3 separate regions of the Homo sapiens genome follow, and regions 1 and 2 are each linked to region 3. Evidence: fine-mapped expression QTL. A gene starts in region 3. Each other region holds a variant in brackets. All regions are shown on one strand. Distances are between the middles of the regions. Region 1 has its middle 38 kb from the start of YEATS4. Region 2 has its middle 25 kb from the start of LYZ. Region 3 holds the start of YEATS4 (YEATS domain containing 4).

The links. PIP is the estimated chance that this variant, and not a neighbour inherited with it, causes the effect.
Region 1: its variant is the best candidate, but not a certain one, in a credible set for the expression of YEATS4 in whole blood (INTERVAL, PIP 0.57).
Region 2: its variant is the best candidate, but not a certain one, in a credible set for the expression of YEATS4 in subcutaneous fat (GTEx, PIP 0.67).

Annotation. Positions count from the first base shown.
Region 1 is chr12:69,395,922-69,400,167 of GRCh38, reverse strand. It overlaps a transcript of YEATS4 not described here. Among named protein-coding and RNA genes, the nearest start is that of YEATS4, 38 kb to the right of the region's middle. The variant T/C (reference allele first, on the strand shown) is at 1,923.
Region 2 is chr12:69,321,466-69,325,711 of GRCh38, reverse strand. No RefSeq gene overlaps it. Among named protein-coding and RNA genes, the nearest start is that of LYZ, 25 kb to the left of the region's middle. The variant C/T (reference allele first, on the strand shown) is at 2,648.
Region 3 is chr12:69,357,685-69,361,906 of GRCh38, reverse strand. YEATS4 (YEATS domain containing 4) reads right to left here and starts at 2,164. Exons shown (of 7, transcript NM_006530.4): 1 at 1,884-2,164. The coding sequence starts at 1,934. RefSeq lists a silencer at 1,630-1,789 and enhancers at 1,215-1,816, 2,070-2,259, 1,817-2,420.

The DNA.
Region 1 (4,246 bases), 38 kb before region 3:
GTATTCAGTAAATGGTAACACTAAGCTTTTTTTTTTTAATTGAGATATAATTCACATACCATAAAGTATACAAGTCAGTTGTTTTTAGTATATTCACAAGGTTGTGTAACGATCACCACTATTTAATTCAAGAACTTTTCCATCACCGCCACGTAAAAAAATTCTGCACCCAGTCACTCCCCATCCTCCCTTCCCCACCCATCTCCTGGCAACCACTAATCACTTTCTGTCTCTATGGATTTACCTATTCTGGATGTTTCATATAAGTGGAGTCATACAGTAGGTGGCCTTTGTGTCTGGCATCTTTCATTTGGCATGTTTATAAGATTCATTCTGCATGTTTAGCACATCATTCATTTTTACTGCTGAGTAATAATCCATTGTATTGATACACCACATTCGATTTATTCATTCATCAGTTGATGGACATGGGGATTGTTTCCAATTTTAGCTATTCTGAATGATGCTCCTATAAATATTCATGCACAAGTTTTTGTGTGGACATGTTTTCAATTCTCCTGGGTATATATCTAGAAGAATTTTGAGGTCATATGGTAACTCTATGTTTAACATTTTAAGGAACTCTGAAACTTTTTCTACAGCAGTTGCATCTTTTTACATTTTTACCAGAAATATATGAGAGTTTCAATTTCTCCACATCCTCATCAACACTTACTATTGTCTGTCTCTTTTATTGCAGCCATTCTAGTGGATGTGAAGTGTTATCATCATTTTGATTTGTATTTCCAAATGATGTTAAGCATCTTTTTATATGCTTATTGGCCATTTGAATATCTTCTTTGGAGAAATGTGTATTCAAATTTTTTGCCCAATTTTTAATTGTCTTTTTATTGTTGAGTTGTAAGAGTTCTTTATATATTCTGGATACTCGACTCTTGTCAGATATATGAGTTGCAAATATTTTCTCCCATTTCGTGGGTTTGTTTTTTTTTTCTGACTTTTTTTAGAATGTCCTTTGAAGCACAGAAGTTTTTTTGTTTGTTTGTTTGTTTTTTTGGGGGGGACGGAGTCTCACTCTGTTGCCCAGGCTGGAGTGCAGTGGTGTGATCTTGGCTCACTGCAACCTCCGCCTCCCGGGTTCACGCCATTCTCCTGCCTCAGCATCCTGAGTACCTGGGACTACAGGCACCCGCCACCATGCCCAGCTAATTTTTTGTATTAGTAGAAGCAGTGTTTCACCATGTTAGCCAGGATGGTCTCAATCTCCTGACCTCATGATCCACCTGCCTCAGCCTCTTAAAGTGCTGGGATTACAGGCGTGAGCCACCACACCCGGCCAAAGCACAAAAGTTTTTAATGATGAAGATCAATTTGCCGTTTTTTTTTTTTTTTGAGACAGGGTCTTGTTCTGTTGCCCAGGCTGGAGTGCAGTAGCATGATCCTGACTCACTGCAACCTCCATCTCCTGGGCTCAAGCGATCCTCCCACCTCAGCCTCCCAAGTAGCTGGGACTACAGGTGCACACCACCATGCCCAGTTAATTTTTATATTTTTTTAGTAGAGACAGGATTTTGCCATGTTGCCCAGGCTGGTCTTGAACTCCTGGGCTCAAGCAATCCACCCACCCTGTCTCCCAAAGTGCTGGGATTACAGGTGTGAGCCACTGCATCCAGTCAATTTGTCTATTTTTTATTTGGTTGAGTGCACTTTAGGTGTTATATTCCCAAGTATTTTATTTTTTTAGATGTTATTATAAATGAAATTTTTTTAAAATTTTTATTTTCAGATTGTTCATTGCTGGAGTATGGAACTAATTGATTTTTGTATATAATCGTTCATCCTGCAATTTTGCTGCATCCATTTATTACCTCTAATAGTTTTTTTGTGTGTGTGTGTGTATTCCTTAGGGTTTTCTTTACACAAGATTATGTCATCTCCAAATAGAGATCATTTTACTTCTT[T/C]CTTTCTAATCTGGATGACTTTTATTCTTTTTGCTTGCCAAATTGCTCTGGCTAGAACCTCCCACACAGTGTTGAATAGATGTGGAAAGAGTGAACAGCCTTATCTTTTTCCTAATCTTATGGGGAAAGAATCCAGTCTTTTACCACTATGTATGATGCTTCCCACTGAGGAAGTTCTCTTATATTACTAATTCGTTGAGTGTTTTTTTAATTATAAACGGGTATTGGATTCTGTCAAATGATTTGTCTGCATTTATTGAGATGATCATGTGTATTTTGTGTCCTTTGTTCTATTAATATAGTCTATATGTTAGTTATTAAGGCTGCCATAACAAACTACCACATACAGGTATTTGGTATTTATTTTCCCACAATTCTGGAGGTTATAAGTCTGAGATCAAGTTGTGGGCAGGATTAGTTTCTCCTGAGGCCTCTCTCCTTGGCTTGTAGATGGGTGTCTTCTCCCTGTGTCTTCATATGGTCTTCCTTCTGTGAGTGTCTGTGTCTTAGTCTCCTCTTACAAGGACACCAGTTGTATTAGTCCATTTTCATGCTGCTAATAAAGACATACCAAAATTGGGTAATTTATAAATAAAAAGAGGTTTAATGGACTCACAGTTCCACATGGCTGGGGAGGCCTCACATCATGGTGGAAGGTGAAAGATGAGCAAAGGCATGTCTTACATGGTGGCAGGCAAGAGAGCGTGTGCAGGGGAACTACCCTTTATAAAACCATCAGATCTCATGAGACTTATTCACTATCTTGAGAACAGCACAGGAAAAACCAGCCCCCATGATTCAACTACCTCCACTGGGTCCCTCTCATAACAAGTGGGGATTATGGGAGCTACAATTCAAAATGAGATTTGGGTGGGGACACAGCCAAACTATATCACGAGTCATATTAGATTAGGGCCCAACCTAATGATTATAATTACTTCTTTGACACTATCTTCAAAAACAGTCACAGTCTGAGGTACTAGGGGTTAGGGCTCAATATGTGAATTGGAAGAGGGACACAATTCAGCTCATAATAGTGTATTACACTTATGGATTTGTATATGCCGAACCAACCTTGCATTCCTGAGATAAATCCCAGTTGATAATGGGACTTATTATCCTTTTTATGTTGCTGGATTTGGTTTGCTAGTATTTTGTCAAGGATTTTAGCAGATGGCCAGCATTATTATCTTCTTTATTCTTACCATTCAACACGCTTTTACATGTGCTATGTCATTTACCCTTTAACAGAATTCCATGAGGTAGGTAGTATGTTTACCACAGCAAACTGAGGCTCAGGAAAGTTTATTTTCCCCTAACTATAAACTCGCAGTAGTATATAGTATAAATTGGAATTAAAATTACAGATGGTGAGAACATTTAGGGAGATGAAAGAAAGCAGGATTTGGTGAGAACAAAGAGAAACTTTGTATGGATGGAAGTTTACAGAATCAATTTGAATAGCATCAGTGATCTCAATGATGTAAGAACTGAGGTCATCTGCTGATGTGCAAAATAAGAGTAAATAGGTTCATGGTTTCAATTCATGAATGTAATTAAACCAAATAGGAGTGACAATTCTCATTAATTTTGAGAACATGACTTAACCAGATTAACTCATGTTCTCATTAATTTTGAGAACATGAGTTAACCAGATTTAACTCATTAATCATGAGAACATGATTTAACCAGAATGAGCCAAAATTTTAATAATAGGGATTGGACTATAACAGTAACAGTAAACCTCAGCTTACAGATTTCTTCTTTCTTGGAAAGTTTGTTTCCCAGTTGATTTCCAGTTTGCACACTCTCCTCTAAGCTTTGGGGGAGCTGTACCATGACTGTTCAGTCAGGAAATGCTGAATTAAAATTGAATCTCTGTCCCAACAGATTGTGTGACTCTGAAAGTCATTTAATTTCTTCATGGCTCTACTCCCTTATCAAATGAGGGAATTAAGTTAGATGATTAGCTCCCAGCTTTATGACTCTATTCATTTAGTGAATAAGCAGACTGGTGATTCAGTAGACTGGAAATTTTCAGACAGCAACAATAAAGAATTTACTAAGGGTAGACTAAGGAATTACTAAAGAGCAATGAAGCCGTGTTGAGGGTAGAGAACAGTTAACTCAGGATAGCCAGTGAAAGTGAGAAAGAGTAAACAGATTAGGGTGGAGATCCAGGAGGGCTACCTAGAGTTGGGGATTGACATGAGGCGTATTACATAAGGTTACTGAAATCTAGGTGGTCAATTGGTTAAAATTTATCTTAAGTAAAAATAACTAAAAATAATTTAAAAGCCAGATCAGAGAGTCCAGGCTGGGGC
Region 2 (4,246 bases), 36 kb after region 3:
CAATTTTGATGAAGTCCAATTTATTGATTTGTTTTTATGGGTTGTGCTTTTGGTGCTGTATCTAAGAAATTTTTGCCCAACCCAAGGTCCAAAGATTTTCTACTATGTTTGTTTTAAGAAGTTTTATAGATTTATGTTTCACATTTAGGTTTATGATCCATTTTGGGTTAATTTTTATGTATGGTGAAATGGTGCAATGTATAGACCCAAGTTTTTTTTTTTGCATATGGATATATACACACACATATATATGCATACATGCAAACACACAATTTACATTTAGTAAACAAGAGATAAAACTGTAATCTCAAAAAAAAATTTCTTTCTTGGTGGTGATTTCCATTAAAGACCATCTCCAGATCCACTTCCTCTTCTGTGTCAGGCTATTGGCATGGAACTAAGTCTATCTGATGTGTAGTTGAGCTGTGTTTGACTGTGTTGTGGTTTTAGTTAGTTTCTGTTCACCACTGACTTCAAGTGTTATGGAGTAGAATGAGGGCTTCTCTTCAGCAGAGCCTGGGATCTGAGAATTAACAACATCCTAGAGATCCATCTGTGCTTCCCAGCCATGTCACCTGGGGGAATCTCTTCCTGCTTCACAGCCAAGCTGTCAGGTTATGGGTTACTGGGAGTTTTCTTTGTTTTTCAGTCTAGTCTCCTGTTTGTGTGTGTAGAGGTCTCTTGAAGCCTTGCTGCTCACCCTCTGGCCTTTGGAGGACAGCTTCTCTGCTCTCCATGAAGGTCCAGAATGTTTCAGAGGAGTTTCTTAGCTTTCCTACTAAGTCTTTAGGCTTTGGTAGTTGAATGCCTGCATTGCTTGTGAGGATTCCTGACCTATCTCAACTTTCACAGTTGGACATTAGAGTACGTCTGATGGATTTCTCTCCACTCGTCTTCCCTGTTCCCTTGCCTCCAGAAAGAGCTATGAACTTGCAGAAGACTCCACACACCCCAACAGGGGATCTCTCTTAACTTTTCTTCTCTCCTTCTAACTTTTTACCTACTACTGTTGTATAATGACCCACGGGAAAAAGTGAATGAGTGGATGCAGACTTGCTCTGTGGCTGGGTATCTTTGGGATTTAATCTGTTTCACTAGCCCATTATTATATATTGGTGAAAAACTAGCTAATTTCTCATTATTCCCATCCATGGTTTTTTTTTTTCCCCTAACCTGTTCTTGCTCCAGTGATGAGAGCAGCTGTGGGTCTTATCTTTCCTAGATAAGGGCTACTTTCTGGAGTTTGTGTTTCTTTTCTTTCTAGATTCCTTTGTGTCTTTAGTCCCTTCTTTATTTTCTTTCTCTCTTTCTTTCTTATAGAGGTAAGAGTCTCGCTATCTTGCTCAGGCTGGTCTGGAACTCCAGGCCTCAGCTGCCCTAGTAGCCACCATACCTGGACCTTCAGTTCTCTGAAGCATTTAAAAAAATTATGTCTGGCTTGTTTTGATTTTTAGCATGAGATTGACACCCTTTTGTGATTTTCTATAATAGAATCAGAAGCAGAACTGAGATTTGGTCTTAATAATTTGAGAATTGTACCTTTACAAATAAAACTGTTTATGGTTATATGAGTAACTAACGTTCAGAGAGAAGTGATTGGCCAAGGTATAGAAATGAGGTAGGGGCTATCTTAGTCAACTCAGGGCTGTCATATCAAAATACCACAGACTGGGTGGCTTAAACAACAGAAATTAATTTTCTCACAGTTTTAGAGGCTGGAAGTCTGAGATCGGAACTAGCATCATTAGGTTCTTGTAAGGGCTCTCTTCCTGGCTTTGCAGACTGCCACCTTCTCCCTGTATCTTCCTATGGTGAAGAAAGAGTTCTGAATCTCTTCTTCTTCTTATAAGGGTACCAGTTCTATTAAATCAGAGCTCCACTCTTATGACCTCATTTAACCTTAATCACCTACTTAAAGACTCCATCTCGAATATATTCACATAGGGGGTTAAGACTTTGACGTATGAATTTGGGGGTGTAGTGAAGGGGGACAAAATTCAGTCCATAGCAAGGTCCTAGATGAATTATAATCCAACACTTTTGATTTCTAGTCCCTCCAGGGTGAGGACTTACAGGGCAAATGGGGGGTCAAGGGACTCAGTGTCGTGTTGTAATTTAAAAAGCATAGGCTGTAAAGTCCAAAAAACTTGAGCTTAAATTTTGGCTCTGCACTAAAACTGTAGGAGCTTGTGAAGGGTCTTCAATGAGCCTCAGTTTCCTAGAAGATGTGAGAGTTTGATGGGATTACATATGTAAAGTGCCTATGTGTCTTGATTGTACTTGTAGGATTTTCACTTTTGGAGATGACTGAGCGATTGCAGAGAGAGGCTAATGTCATTGAAAGAAGATTTCATTGTAATTCAGTTATCTAGAGAAGGGTACATGCCATTCCACTCAGGACCACATGTGGAAGCACCTGGGTCAGTTAGAAGGCATAGGAGCAGGAGGAAAGCATGGCTCAAAGACTTTATTGTGATTTCCATGAGAAGGAAGGAGCAAGACAGTAAATAGTTTAAAATTTGCTAGTTTGAATAATTTCCACAGACTCTGGACTATAGGGATGGGCTCTAGTTGTTAGGTACCTGGCCCAGGGGTGATTTAGGATAGGACAAATATTGGCTTGGTGTGTGATAGTTAGATATAGCCA[C/T]GACCCCCAAAGGTTTGGGGGTGTGGCTTTGGATTTGTTGTGTTGCAAATGAAAGGTGTTTTCCCAGGCAAGTTATTTACTGTGTCTAGGAATTAACTAGCCCTGGAAGGAGCAGTCCCTCCCCTGCCAGTAGGGCTCCTAAGATGTCAAACCAGACATCTTACAGAAACACAGAAAGTCATTATTAATACATTGTCTCAGTTCCTGGCATATTACTACATGCTTCATGAGTGGTGGTCTTTTCCATAATCACTCCTGTCTTTCTCTCATCTCAGCAGCTTCTGGAAGATTTTTTCTCAGTAGTTCTGTCTGGATAACCCAGGCCTTGGTTTTTCCCTGTCATAACTACATCTTGATGGACCATGCCTGGGTAAGGCTGAGAGCCCCATTAAGAGGGAGCCCTTCCAGATTCTGTTAGGGCAGGGGCAGGACTAGAAAATAAGAGTCATCTGGAAGGGGCCAGCTTTGTTGGGGGGGGATTGATATCTCTATTTTCAGGCTAAAAGAGAGGGATTCTCAGTCTGAAGCCCTATGGGTGGTTGATTTGGGGTCACCACGCATCAGCATCCTGGCAACAGAGAAGAAAACTAGAAAATCTATTCCATCTGACTGGGCTGCCCATATTTAGCTACATGCTTCAGCAGCAACTGTGTCCAGGCTGGTGAAAGGGCAGTATTGGCCTCTCCTCAAGGAAGACTGAGGTCAGGCCAGGCGTGGTGGGTCAGGCCAGGCGTGGTGGCTCATGCCTGTAATCCCAGCACTTTGGGAGGCCTAGGTGGGCAGATCACAAGCTCAGGAGTTCGAGACCAGCCTGACCAATATGGTAAAACCCCGTCTCTACTAAAAATACAAAAATTAGCCAGGTGTGGTGGTGGGCACCTGTAGTCCTAGCTACTTGGGAGGCTGAGGCAGGAGAATCGCTTGAACCCAGGAGGCGGAAGTTGCAGTGAGCCAAGATCACGCCATTGCACTCCAGCCTGGGTGACAGAGTGAGACTCTGTCTAAAAAAAAAAAAAAAGACTGAGGTTAGCAACAGTTGCAGTAGTTATAATGAACAGTTCATTTTTCTGAGTTGTCTGGGCTGTCCAGCTTCAGTATGCAGTAAGAGTAAACAAGATTGATACTCTGGACTGAGTAAGCACCACTGGAATCTTTGAACATCAAATAAAAAGGTACTGGTAGAAGAAAAAACATAATTTTCTGTTAACATGGCCAAATGAGGCCTTAATTAATTAAGCACCTCTGAATGGCAAAGCGGGACACAAAGACAGGGCACCATTCAGAATACAGAATTATGAAACCCATGGAAACTGCATAAATATCTTTTCTTTCCAAAGTCATCCTACCATAAAGAGATTATCCATGGCTGAATTCACACCATCAGAGTCCACAGTTCCTGCAAGTGATATGAACTTGGGTCCAGATGCCTCACGGATATTTGCCCAAGCAACCTCTCCAAAATAAAGGTTAAGAAGCTGCACTAATCTCTATGATTCTGGCCAGTTATTCATACACTATGAAACTCAACTTCCTCTTACAGAAGATAAGGATATTAATATCTACTTTGTGGCTTTGTTGAAATCACACCATGATGACTAT
Region 3 (4,222 bases):
GACATGGCAAAAATGGCCAAGAGTCACTTGGATGACTGAAGCTTGGTAAATAGTGGCTGATGACATGTTTGCTACATTTGTCCTTAGTTTAACATACATATTTCTTATATCTGATAAGTGCAAAGGCAGTGCGTATTGACAGATTATGTTGGAAAGATAAAAAATTTCAATTGAAGTGAAAATATTGAATGTTGCACATGAATCTGAAACCAATGGCTCAGTTACAGAAATGTATCTGAAGAACAATGAGCAAGATTTACCACATGTGAAAAGTGCTGAGTGAATGTAACCAACAACAATAAAAATGAAGAAAAGCGGCCAGGCACGGTGGCTCACGCCTGTAATCCCAGCACTTTGGGAGGCCGAGGCGGGCAGATCACCCGAGGTCGGGAGTTCGAGACCAGCCTGACCAACACGGAGAAGCCCCCGTCTCTACTAAAAATACAAAATTAGCTGGGCATGGTGGCGCATGCCTGTAATTCCAGCTATTCAGGAGGCTGAGGCAGGAGAATCGCTTGGAGGCAGGAGAATCGCTTGAATCCAGGAGGTGGAGGTTGCGGAGAGCCGAGATTGCGCTAGTGCACTCCAGCCTGGGCAACAAGAGCAAAACTCCGTCTCAAAAAAAAACAAAACAAAACACACACACACACACACACACACACACATAAGTATTTTAAAACCTACTAATTATTGCTATTTTTTTTTTAAAGAAACATTGTCTTGCTCTGTCGCCCAGGCTAGAGTGCAGTGGCACGATCTCAGCTCACTGCAACTTCCGCCTCTCGGGTTCAAGCGATTTTCCTGCCTCAGCCCCTCTAGTAGCTGGGATTACAGGTGCCCGCCACCACGCCCGGCTAATTTTTGTATATTTAGTAGAGACGGGGTTTCACCATGTTGACCAGCCTGGTCTTGAACTTCTGATCTCAGGTGATCCACCCTCCTCGGCCTTCCAAAGTGCTGGGATTACAGGCGTGAGCCACCTTGCCCGGCCCTGCACGTTAATTTTTAAGGCAGGACCCACTGGCTCCTGATAAAAACAACTATTTGTACCCCTTCTGATTTTTATTTATAAAGGAAAGGAAATTTTTCTTTAAAAAGAATGAACCACGGCTGGGCGCGGTGGCTCACGCCTGTAATCCCAGCACTTTGGGAGGCCGAGGTTGCAGTGAGCCGAGATCGTGCCATTGCGCTCCAGCCTGGGCAACAAGACAGACACTTCGTCTCAAAAAAAAAAAAAAATTAACGTGCCAGGGGCTGTGTGAGGGAAATAAATATTACAATGTCAAACATTACGCTAGGGTCTATGGTAATTTCATCAAAAACAAAAGAAGTTGACATTTACTGAATGTTCCCCATGTGCCAGGCACAGTGTTATGCTCTTGCTTTGAGGCTTTGTGAACACCATGAACTCCAGCAAATTTTCTTAGCTTTCGTATGCCTCGGTGTCTCAGTTACCGCACTTGGAAATACTGCGGGTAAGCGCTCAGCGACTGTTTGCTACAGTTATTGTTATCCTCACACCAGGAGGGTGGCGTCACCGCTTCACCAATAACCTAGATTGGCAGCGAATGTGCACCAAGCTGAGCTTTCCCAGCCCTCGGAGTCGCCCGTTTCCTTGGCAGCCACGTCCGGGTTTCCCCAAGCCACCATTTATCTGTTTGTTTTTTGGCGGGGGTGGGAGTTGGCAGTGACGCGAGGAAGTTGGGGCCCAATGAACGCCGGTTTTTCGCTCAATGGCTCTGACTCGCTCTCCAACCTGAAACCACGGTTCAAACCCGAGGAGAAAAGGCGCGAAAGGAAACCCAGTGGGCCCTCCCCGCGCCGCGCAGGGAGGAACCGAGGCGGGAGAGCCACCCCGGAAGAGGGGCGGTCCGGGCACTGACCTTTACTCTCCCGCCGGAGTCAGGCCCAAATTCGGCCATTCTCTTGAACATATTGTCCCACGGAAGAAGCCGCCGCCGCCAGGGAAAGAGACCGGGGCTGGCGGGGTCGCCGCTCCCCTCAGAGACCGCGCTCCTGTCGCGCGGGCCCAGGCGGAGGGTTTCTAGCCGAAGGAGGGCGAGTTACTTGGGCTCACGGCGGTGAGTAACCGTCAACTCCTCAGGCCGACTGTGCTCCTGAAGGCCATTCAGGCCCGCGCAGGTGGAGAACGCCGCGAAAAGAGGGGCGACGGCCGCACCGCGCGCAGGCGCAACGGGCTCGCGTATGCGCACGCAGTGTACACTGCGCACGCGCCTGGCGGCTGCAGTCACATCACAGGACCAGTGCAGGAGTTCCAAACCAAAAAAAAAATGAAAGGCAGGAAATAATAAATGACTTCAAAAAGTTGTCCAGATGTTAAGGAGATGAGTTTCCACACTGAAAGATCCTACTAAGCACCCAGCACAAATATTAAAGCATCCACGTCAAGGCATATCATTGTGAATTTTCTGAACATCGAGGAAAAAGAGATCCCACACCCTTCCAGGTTATACAGACTATAGAATCAGAGTGGCTTCAGATTGCTCAGTTAGAATCTAGGAAGCCATACGGCACTGTCTTCAAAACTCTGAGGGAAAATTACTTCCGATTTAGTCTTCAATACTCATCCAACTACCAATCTAGTGTGTGAATAGAATAGAGTTTCAGATGTGCTAAATCACTACACACAAAAAATAGTACCTATCTTACCTTTCTCAGTACCTCCAGGAAGATCCTGTAGATCTGATCCACCAAAATGAGGGAATAAGCCAAGAAGGAGGAAATTATGAAATGCAGGAAATACAATAAATAACAAACACAGAAAATAGTAAGATCCCAAGATGATACTGAAAGAGCTCCGGGAACAATAGCTGTGTATAGGCATAGACGGCAACGCATCTAGATTAGATTCGGTCAGAAATCTTTGGGAGACACTGCTTCAGAAGGATGGGATTGACAAAATTCCAGCTGGCGTTGAATCAAGAGGAGATTTGACCGAGAGTTTGGAGTTTAACTCATGACAGGTACACAGAAAACTAAGCGGCTGTAAGAATTATGCAGCTATTAATTCTAGGGAAAACAAAATCTTGTGCAAGAAAGGAAAGTAATTGTATTTATTGTTACATAAATACTGAGTATTGGCCGGGCGCGGTGGCTCACGCCTGTAATCCCAGCACTTTGGGAGGCCAAGGTGGGCGGATCACGAGGTCAGGAGATCGAGACCATCCTGGCTAACACGGTGAAAACCCGTCTCTACTAAAAATACAAAAAAATTAGCCGAGCGTGGTGGTGGGCGCCTGTAGTCCCAGCTGCTTGGGAGGCTGAGGCAGAAGAATGGCGTGAACCCGGGAGGCGGAGCTTGCCTTGAGCCGAGATCGCACCACTGCACTCCAGCCTGGGTGACAGAGCAAGACTCCGTCTCAAAAAAAAAAAAAAAACAAAACAAAAAAAAACTGAGTATTGATCCCCCCTCCCCCTCAAAAAAAGAATTACATTTAGAAGGATGGGCTTTGGAGAAGGGTACTATGCTTGATGGGGATGGAGGAGGAGGAAATAGAGCTTAATCTTTAACTTCCATAGTAGGAAGTCAGTATCTTAAAATGGAAAAATCAAGAAGAAGCAATATAGGTGTAATATTGAAAAGCATGGAGATAAATATTTTAAAAAATAAGCTAAAAGAGTAGAAAATACTGCTGATTGTAATTTTTAGTAATTCCACTTAACAACTGTAAAGAAAATACTTTTTAAAAGACTTCACTAAATAGAAGTGCAAGGGATGTGCTCAGGGCTTAGTTATATTAGTGCCACATGAAGAGCTCAATTGTCATATGGATGTCACTGCATTTCAACCAAGATAGGAACTGAGTTTCTTTGAAAATGATCAAACATTGATATTGATTTTTATTCTGTTGCCAGAATAAGAGTAGAAATTTGGTTTGGGGGCGTAATTATATTTAAAACAATTGGTATGACTAAGAAATATTTATCAAAAACTAAAGCAAAATCTCCAACAAACATTGCTTTCCCTCTTCAGTCTACTTTGTCTAATCTCTGGCAGTTTCCTCAATCAGCCTGTGTTGTTGGGTTATCCTGGCACTTCTTGGACATGTCCTATCTCTGTTTCTCAGCTGTCACTCTTCAACTCTCTCTCCGCTACCTTGACTCATCCTTTGTACACCTCAGGGTATCTCGATATGCATAAACTCATTCGTTTTTAGTTTAATCACGTCAGAATGGTCCAAGAATTTTGAAGCCAAAGGTT